Regions from separate parts of the Homo sapiens genome. Here region 2 is linked to region 1. The links come from fine-mapping of genetic effects on gene expression. A gene starts in region 1. The other region holds a variant in brackets. All regions are shown on one strand. Distances are from middle to middle. Region 1 holds the start of ACER2 (alkaline ceramidase 2). Region 2 overlaps ACER2 (alkaline ceramidase 2).

Region 1 (4,394 bases):
CACAAGCACATATTCCATTAGCTGTCGGAGAGATAATGACATCACACATCATGTATCCTCTGGGAAGTTCCAATGTACACTGGTAAGAGAATGAAAATGAAAAGAAAGGGAGGAACCACACTTTGAGAATCTCTGGCATATAAAATAATGGTTTTTTAAAAATACCATTATATTTTGATGAATATGGATATATTTCCAAGTAAACTGTTGTTGGAAGAAGTAAAATATTGACTACAGGGAAAATTCTATTGCTGAACAGTTGGTGTAGCATTTTGAGACACAGAAATTAACTGATGTATCTTTCTTCTGTGGCTGTGGGAAACATCCACCCCAACCGCCCTTCGTTTTTGAGATGGAATCTCGCTCTGTCACCCAGGCTGGAGTGCAGTGGCGCGATCTCGGCTCACTGCAAGCTCCGCTTCCCGGGTTCACGCAATTCTCCTGCCTCAGCCTCCTGCGTAGCTGGGACTACAGGCGCCCGCCACGACGCCCGGGTAATTTTTTGTATTCTTTTTTTAAGTAGAGACGGGGTTTCACCATGTTAGCCAGGATGGTCTCCATCTCCTGACCTCGTGATCCGCCTGCCTCGGCCTCCCAAAGTGCTGGGATTACAGGCATGAGCCACCGCGCCCGGCCCTCAACCGCCTTTCTTAGGTGGCCAGCTCACTCCGGGTATCCTGTAGGTCTGGGTAAATCAACCCTAGGGGAAGGTAAGAGTGTATCTTCTACTTGGGTTCTGGAGGGCAGTGGAATTGCCCGTAAAGCAGGAGGAAGGGATAGAGGTTGGGACAAAGATGAAAGGAGGAGTGTGGTTTGGCCCCTGGGGGACAAACCTGGATTTTCTAGAGACTAGGAGAGGCGGCGGGGCTTGCAGTTTTTGTCAGTGATGGAGATCTCTGGGGACTTGCACATGGCTGTGTGGGTACTGGTGGGCAGACAAACACTTGGTGCAGAGGACACTGAAGCACCACCCAGGGTCCTGCTGGGCAGTCAGGCCCAGAGAGAGGGCAGACCCTGGGGAGTTGCTGGCCTTTAGGATACCCTGCGGGTCCGAGCAAGACGTCCTAATGACAGTCACCAATGGGCTGCTGCCCAGGGCCTCTTCTGCCGCTGTCCTGACCTAGAATCCTACAACCTTTCAAGGAAGGAGAACGGGAGCCACCACATACACACAGAGGGTGGCTTTCCTCTAGGGATCCTGGGAACCAGATTGGCTTTCATTTACAAACCGCAGAACAGTTACAGAAGCAAAAGAAGGTAGTTATGACTGGATCTGAGGACATCTTGCCTGAATTGAATTTCCAGCTCTGTCACTTGCTAATAGAAGCCCCTCACAGGGTCTCTGCTGGGCACACTAAATGAGTGATACATGGAAACTCTTCAGACAGCACCTGGCATGTGTATGTTATCTATCACCTCTTGAACCTCGATATCTTGGAGATGTCATAACTGCCACACTACATCCTCTGCAGTTTGGGATGGCTGACGTTTGACCCTTTGCCTAAGTCCCCATATCGAAGGCTAGATTAAGCCTTAACGCTGGAGCCAAGGGGAGGGAGGGCAGGAACGTACTCTAAATAGAAGTGCTCCCCCGGGGACTGGGCGGCCCAACCTGCTCCAGCAGCCGGGAAGGTCTTCCTGCCACAGTGACCGCAGCGAGTGGCGTCCGGCCTCGGAGGGACTGAGGGCACTTCTCTGGTGTAAGCACTGGCGTCCAACGCCGGACGCAGCAAAATCGCTGCAAACTCTGGGTCCAGAGAGGTCCAGGTCCTCCCGGGTTTCTTTTTATTTTAAATTTTTTTCCAGGGAGAGTTCTGGCGCTCCTTCAATCGGGGGAGGCTGCGAGTCTGAGCCAGGAGATGGGCGTGGGCAGGCGTGGGTAGCACCATCGAGGCCCTGGCCACCTGCCGGGTGCTGGGTAGTCTGGAAGAGTCTGGAGCCCGGTCTCCGCCTCCAGGCGCCCCACCCTGGACCCCTCCTCCACGCGGGTCCCGCCCCACGGTGGGCGTGGCTTCCAGGGGGAGGGGCCGGGGAGGGTCTGCGAACGAGTAACCTCCCGCAGGCGAGGCGAGGCGGGGCGGAGCGCGGGAGGCCAGTTGGGAGGCGCACATCCGGCGGTTACCCGGTGCTTCATAAAGCCGCTTTCGCCGCTGGCTGTCGCCGCGTTTTGCCTCCGCAGCAGCTCTGGGCTCTTCTCAGCTGCGCGAGCAGCTGCTCCAATGCCCCGGAGTGGCCATGGGCGCCCCGCACTGGTGGGACCAGCTGCAGGCTGGTAGCTCGGAGGTGGACTGGTGCGAGGACAACTACACCATCGTGCCTGCTATCGCCGAGTTCTACAACACGGTGCGGGGCGCGGGAGCGGGGAAGGCAGGCGGGCCAGCGGGAGGGGGCTGTTCCCGCGCCGCAGCGTCTGGAAGCTGGACGTGGGTCTCTGCGCGCATCTGGGGGCATTCTCTCCAGGGGCTGAGTCAGTCCACACCCCCTCCTCGGCGCGCTCCTTTCAGTTCTCCATCTGTCCTCCTCTCCTGTCCCCATTCCCGACAGCTGGGCTCATCTTCCTCCTGCTGTCATTTGTTTTGTGATGGTCCTATTGTCTTGTTTGGCCCCCACGCGTCCAGGAACCAGGGGTCTGTGTCAGCCCATTCTCCTTGTTTGGGTCAGCTGGGGGCGGTGAACCTGCCGGGACAAGTCTCTTCCTCCCCTGGGATCTCTGTGGCGTGACGCACTTGGGTCGCATTGTGCTTTTTTGCCCTGAATACCTGCTCTCGGAGTGCTGGGAAGAGCACGCCCCCCGCAGGTCCCCGCGGCTGGGGTCACTCCCACCAGGCAGACTTGCCCCACCCCCAAGAACATGCCTATAATGGTCGAGTTATTTTTGGTCAGAATCAAGTTAATTACTACTTGTTTTTTTTTCTTGCCTTTAGTGTCCTGTCTTGTGCAAGCCGCTAATTCAACTCCCCCAGGACTGTGCTTTCTCCAGTTCTGAAGTCTGAGGGATGAAAGGAAAGTTTGGGAGTGATAATGTGCGGGTTTTGGATTTGCCTAGGTCCCTAGATAAGGGTGAGCAGAAACTTCCCCATTGCAGAATCCTGTGTGATTTTAGTTCTTGTGGTAGGGAAGGGTTGCAGCTGGGAGAGGAAATGCCTCTTATTTTGTGTATGTCCATGGCTCAGAATCCTGGTACAGAATGTGAGACTTTGCGTGGTCATTTCTGTGGCTTATCTTTTCACCGCCCAAACAAGGGAAACAGGAACTCCTGGTTTGGGTCATTGTGAATTTGAGGTTGTTGTTTAGGACTTTTCCTTTTGGATTTGCTAGAGAGAATGTCTTCAGCAGGAGTCAGGTGCTTACTGCCTGCAGGAATCTCAGATGATCTAGTCCCTGTCCTTTTATTCATCTGATGAGAAAACTGGGCTCTTGAGGAGGGAGCTGTCATGCTCACATTTCTGGCATGGCTGGGGCCACAATCCAGAAGTCTGGGCCCTTCCTTCCCTCAGTGCTGAAATCCATGGCTGGCTTCCACACAAACACTCCTGCTCCTTTTTTTATGATTAGGTTGGTTCCTTAAGAAAACCTAAGGCTGGGCGTTGTGGCTCACACCTGTATTCCTAGCACTTTGGGAGGCCAAGGCAGGTGGATCGCTTGAATCCAGGAGTTCGAGACCAACCTGGGCAACATGGCGAAACCTCATCTCTACAAAAAAATACAAAAATTAGCTGGACATGTGGCACACACTTGTCGTCCCAGCTACTTGGGAAGCTGAGGTGGGAGGATCACCTGAGCCTGGGAGTTGAAGGCTGCAATGAACTGAGATCGCGCCACTCCACTCCAGCCTGGGCAACAGGGTCTCAAAGAAAACCTGGCCCTCTGCTGACCACAGATACTGTGAAAGACAGTGGAAGTGGCCATGACTTATGTATTGCATAACCTCCCAGAGCATGCTGTCAGGGGTAAATAGTTGCACACAGAGGATGGGCTGGAGTAGTTCTGGGTACTTTCAATAAGGAGAAACACCAGTGGTAACACAAGCTGTCCTTTTGTAAATAAAGAATATAGTGAAAGAGTAAGGATTTCACCAGAGTTCAAGAAGAAAAGACAGCTTGATGACAGGTTCTCACACACTTAGCAAGATTATTCTCTGTGCAGCCTGGGGTCTACAGAGAGGGTCAACCTTGGTTATTTTGGCCAAAAAAGCTAGTGTATGGCTTCTCTGAGTCTGTCTTGAAAAGTGTCATAGGGCTGGATGAAAGGGAGAGTTTGTCTTTACTTTTAATCTAGTCCCATTGGAGCCGTTACTCTATGTAGTGAGTGCTAAAGTCTTTTTCAGAAACTAACTGTTGATCTTCAGCTGCATTGTCTGGCTGATGAGCCCAGCTGGCCCATCTGACAAACTT
Region 2 (4,394 bases), 40 kb after region 1:
AGCCGGAACGAAAGGCCTGATTGTCATGCTTAGGTCTGCAGTCTTTTACCTCTAACTCCATTATTAAAGCCTAAAGGAGCTTGAGAACTGAACCTGTAACCTGAGCTCTAGCTAGGTGTTGGGGGAGGGGAGAGGTAGGGGAAAGCTGGGGAAAGAGGTGATGTGAGGGCTGGGAGGGTCCTCAGTGGGAACCCCACCTTTAGGGCCTGAGAGACCAAGTGCAAGGAGGGGCCGCACTGGCCATTTAGAGACATTCTCTTCCATTATTTCTATAAGTGGGGACAGAAGACCAGAGAGCTAAAGTGAATTGTTTAATGTCACCCACCTGTTTCTGTAGAAAACAACCTTGGAGTTCAGTAATAGCACATTGGAGCGTCTATACTTTGGAATGCTCAGGATACACTAAGTTAAAAAAAAAAAAGCGGGTTACAAAATACATGCAGAATCCGATTCTGAGAAAGCTGGGGGAAATTGGAGTGGCTTTCTTCCTAGGAACTGCTTCAGCCTCAAACCCAGAGTGATCTTTCCTTTCTGTCCTCCAGGACTTCTGATTGCAAAAGATCACAAGGAGGAGAAATCTGCTGTAGGTTATCCCCTATAGGTAGGAGGAACCCAGAGAGGAATTCTAGTGGTGAAGAAATGGAAAAACTTTGTTAGATCTAGATTCAGGAAAAGGTTGACTTCTATCCAGAGATAGGCTAAAAATATACAATTTGATAGAATTCACTTAAGTTCCCTTGCTCATGTGAACTTTGATATATTTGCTATGAGACCCACCCTACTCTAAATTTAAGACTTGGGGACTTCAAGGAGTGTTTGTAAAAGACAAAATTCAAACAGCACAAGTTGGAGTTTACCGTCTTAGGATCCATTGCTCGATATTTTTTAGATTCAACTCAACTAATACTAGTGAATTTATATAGTTTATATATTTGTTGGGTTATAATTTCCAGATAACAAAATGTACAGATTTTAAGTGTATATTGTGAATTTTGAGAAATGTATACACTAGGTAAATATGACCTCATTCAAGATGGTCATTTTTATCTAAGTCCCCTGTCACACATGATTTAAGTCAAATTCGAAATTTAAACTATGTAATAATTTTGACTCAAACTTAATGTGTTTCTGAATTTGGTATATTTCTGCTTTGTTTTTCAAAGTTGAACCATATTTTCTTTCCAGTTATAAAATGACATATTTTTTATAACAAATTTAAACAACATAGAAGTATAGAAAGAATGGCTCTCATAATTCTATCCCCCAAAGAAACATAATTATTAACAGTCTGATGTATATCCATTGAGATTTTATATGTACACACACACGCACACATATATATGTCTACTTTTAAAAAAAATAGCATCATTCTATACACGATGCAAACTTTTTTTTTTTTTTTTTTTTGAGACAAAGTCTCACTCTGTTGCCCAGGCTGGAGTGCAGTGGGGTGATCTTGGCTCACTGCAATCTCTGCCTCCCGGACTGAAAGTGATTCTCCCACCTCACCCCCTGCAGGGAGCTGGGACTACAGGTGCATGCCACTGTGCCAGGCTAATTTATTTTGAATTTTTTTGTAGAGATGGATTTTTGCCATGTTGCCCAGGCTAGTCAGAAACTCCTGGGCTCGAGCAGGTCCACCTGCCTTGGGCTCCCAAAGTGCTGGGATTACAGGCATGAGCCATTGAGCCTGGCCCAAACTTTTTTTTTAACCAAATACTTAAATCTATACTACATAGATCTAATGCTATACAGACATCATTCCATACCAATACATATATATAATCTTCATTTTTGTGTCTAATAAATGCTTCATAATATGGACACTTTATAATTTATTTAACCAACCTCTCTCTG[A/G]TAACGGACTTTGAGGTTATTTCTAATTTTCCACTTTTGCAAACACTTTATAATGAACATCTAGATTGATTTGAGTTTCTGAATATTTTCATATGTTAAATTAATATTATATATTGCTAAATCCAGAGAAACTGTACCATTAACACTGTTTACTGAAGTCTGTAAGAGAGCATTTTTTACCCACACTTTCACATATACTGGAAACTCTTAAATCTCCATTAACCTGTTTGAGAAAAATTATATTTTGTTTTTATTATTATGTCTTTTTAAAAAATTAGTATTTTTGTTGGGCATCTTTTCAAATGTCAATTTGTGATGTGTATTTCCCCTTTTAATTTTCTTTGTCTGGTCTATTGAGTGTTTCTATTTTTAAAAGTTCATATCAGCCGGGCGTGGTGGCTCACGCCCGTAATCTCAGCACTTTGGGAGGCCGAGGCAGGTGGATCACCAGGTCAGGAGATCGAGACCATCCTGGCTAACACGGTGAAACCCCGTCTCTACTAAAAATGCAAAAAATTAGCCGGATGTGCATGTAGTCCCAGCTATTTGGGAGGTTGAGGCAGGAGAATCGTTTGAACCTGGGAGGCGGAGATTGAAGTGAGCTGAGATTGTGCCACTGTACTCTAGCCTGAGCAACAGAGTGAGACCCCGTCTCCAAAAAATAAAAAATAAAACAGTTTATATTCAGCATCTAGGCTTGGCACATAGTAGACAGTCATTACTAGCTACGTAACTATGTGCCACTTATGCATATTTGCAACATTTTCACAAGTACAGAGAATAATACATTGAACCCCCATATAGGCAACACCCAGATTCCATAACTATCAACACGAGGCCAATCTGGTTCATACCATTCTCACCTACTTCCCACCCTGACCCTGATTAATTTCTTTAGTGTTCTTTGTATGTAGGGATTTAAACTTTGTCATATGGTACAAATATTCCCTGCCCCCCTGCAGTTTCTCATTTGTCTTTCAGTATATTAATATTTTTGTGCCATACTGGTTTTAAACTTTCATATTGTCACATCTGTTAATCTTTTCTATAGGATTTCTGGATTTTGTGTAATTTTTAAAAAGATCCCCTCCTCCCCAACATCAAAGTTTATAAAAATATTGTCTTTGGGCTGGGCGCAGTGGCTTACGACTGTAATCCCAGCACTTTGGGAGGCCGAGGCAGGTGGATTACCTGAGGTCAGGAGTTCAAGACCAGCCTGGCCAACATGGTGAAACCCCCTCCCTCTCTACTAAAAATACAAAAATTAGCTAGGTGGGCCTGGTGGTGGGTGCCTGTAATCCCAGCTACTTGGGAGGCTGAGGCAGGAGAATTGCTTGAACCCAGGAGGCAGAGGTTGCAGTGAGCCGAGATTGCACCATTGCACTCCAGCCTGGATGACAGGGTGAGACTTCATTTAAAAAAAAAAAAAAAAAAAAAGGATTACATGCTTTTAAATGGTCTATTGTTCGATAAAGTTTAATATAAATTTAAAACTTTGTACAGGTACAGTGAGGATAAATTTTTTAAAATTTCCACTAAACTGCAAAAGTGGTTTAACCAACATAAAATTATTCCTGATGAAGGACATAAAATATCTGTAACCAGTTGTTAAAGTGAGAAGGTGGGTTCTAATCAGATGTGCTCAGTTACTTCCATCTTAGCATCTCTGTTGTAAATCCTTGGGCCTCAGTCTTCTTGTTTGAGGCCCAAAGGCATTTATTTGCACATTTGTTCCTATTATCCAGCAGGACTATTTAAGAACATTCTAAAACGGGTCCCAAATTGCTGAAGATTTATCATCCTGCTATTCCAGGGATTGTTGGTAATCTTCATCCTTTCCTAATTAGAAGAGGCCCCTGGGCTGCAACTACAGTCAGCAAGGTGCGTGGGTTAGACCGGAAGAAGGAGCAGGCTAAACTCAGGGCAGCGGAGTCTTCATGCTCATCAGGTTCTCACCTCTTGTCTCCCTCTGCAGGCACATCCTCATCTGCCTTGCTGCCTACCTGGGCTGTGTATGCTTTGCCTACTTTGATGCTGCCTCAGAGATTCCTGAGCAAGGCCCTGTCATCAAGTTCTGGCCCAATGAGAAATGGGCCTTCATTGGTGTCCCCTATGTGTCCCTCCTGTGTGCCAACAAGAAATCATCAGTCAAGATCACGTGATGGCAAGATGGTGGCTGGCTTCTCTGCTTATCGCCCCTCATGCAGTGGGCTTCCTTTGCTAGGAAGACAGCCAAGGGAGTTCGAATAGTTGGGGTGTGGGCTATCTTTTCAAAAATCTATTTGCTGGGGCTCTTAATTTCTTTAGTGTTCTTTGTATGTAGGGATTTAAACTTTGTCATATGGTACAAATATTCCCTGCCCCCCTGCAGTTTCCCATTTGTCTTTCAGTATGTTAATATTTTTGTGCCATACTGGTTTTAAACTTTCATGTTGTCACATCTGTTAATCTTTTCTTTAGGATTTCTGGATTTTGTGTAATTTTTAAAAAGGTCCCCTCCTCCTCCCTAATGTGTCTGTGGACCACCTGGATTCCAC

The links. PIP is the estimated chance that this variant, and not a neighbour inherited with it, causes the effect. A credible set is the group of variants that fine-mapping cannot tell apart.
Region 2: its variant is the best candidate, but not a certain one, in a credible set for the expression of ACER2 in lymphoblastoid cells (GTEx, PIP 0.66).

What each region holds. Positions count from the first base shown.
Region 1 is chr9:19,406,850-19,411,243 of GRCh38, forward strand. It overlaps ACER2 (alkaline ceramidase 2), which reads left to right and starts at 2,160. Exons shown (of 6, transcript NM_001010887.3): 1 at 2,160-2,343. The coding sequence starts at 2,236. RefSeq lists enhancers at 1,130-1,987, 1,988-2,843, 2,256-2,405 and a silencer at 1,866-2,155.
Region 2 is chr9:19,446,618-19,451,011 of GRCh38, forward strand. It overlaps ACER2 (alkaline ceramidase 2), which reads left to right. Exons shown (of 6, transcript NM_001010887.3): 6 at 3,833-4,394. The coding sequence ends at 4,019. Among named protein-coding and RNA genes, the nearest start is that of MAP1LC3BP1, 15 kb to the right of the region's middle. RefSeq lists enhancers at 1-641, 1-326. The variant A/G (reference allele first, on the strand shown) is at 1,858.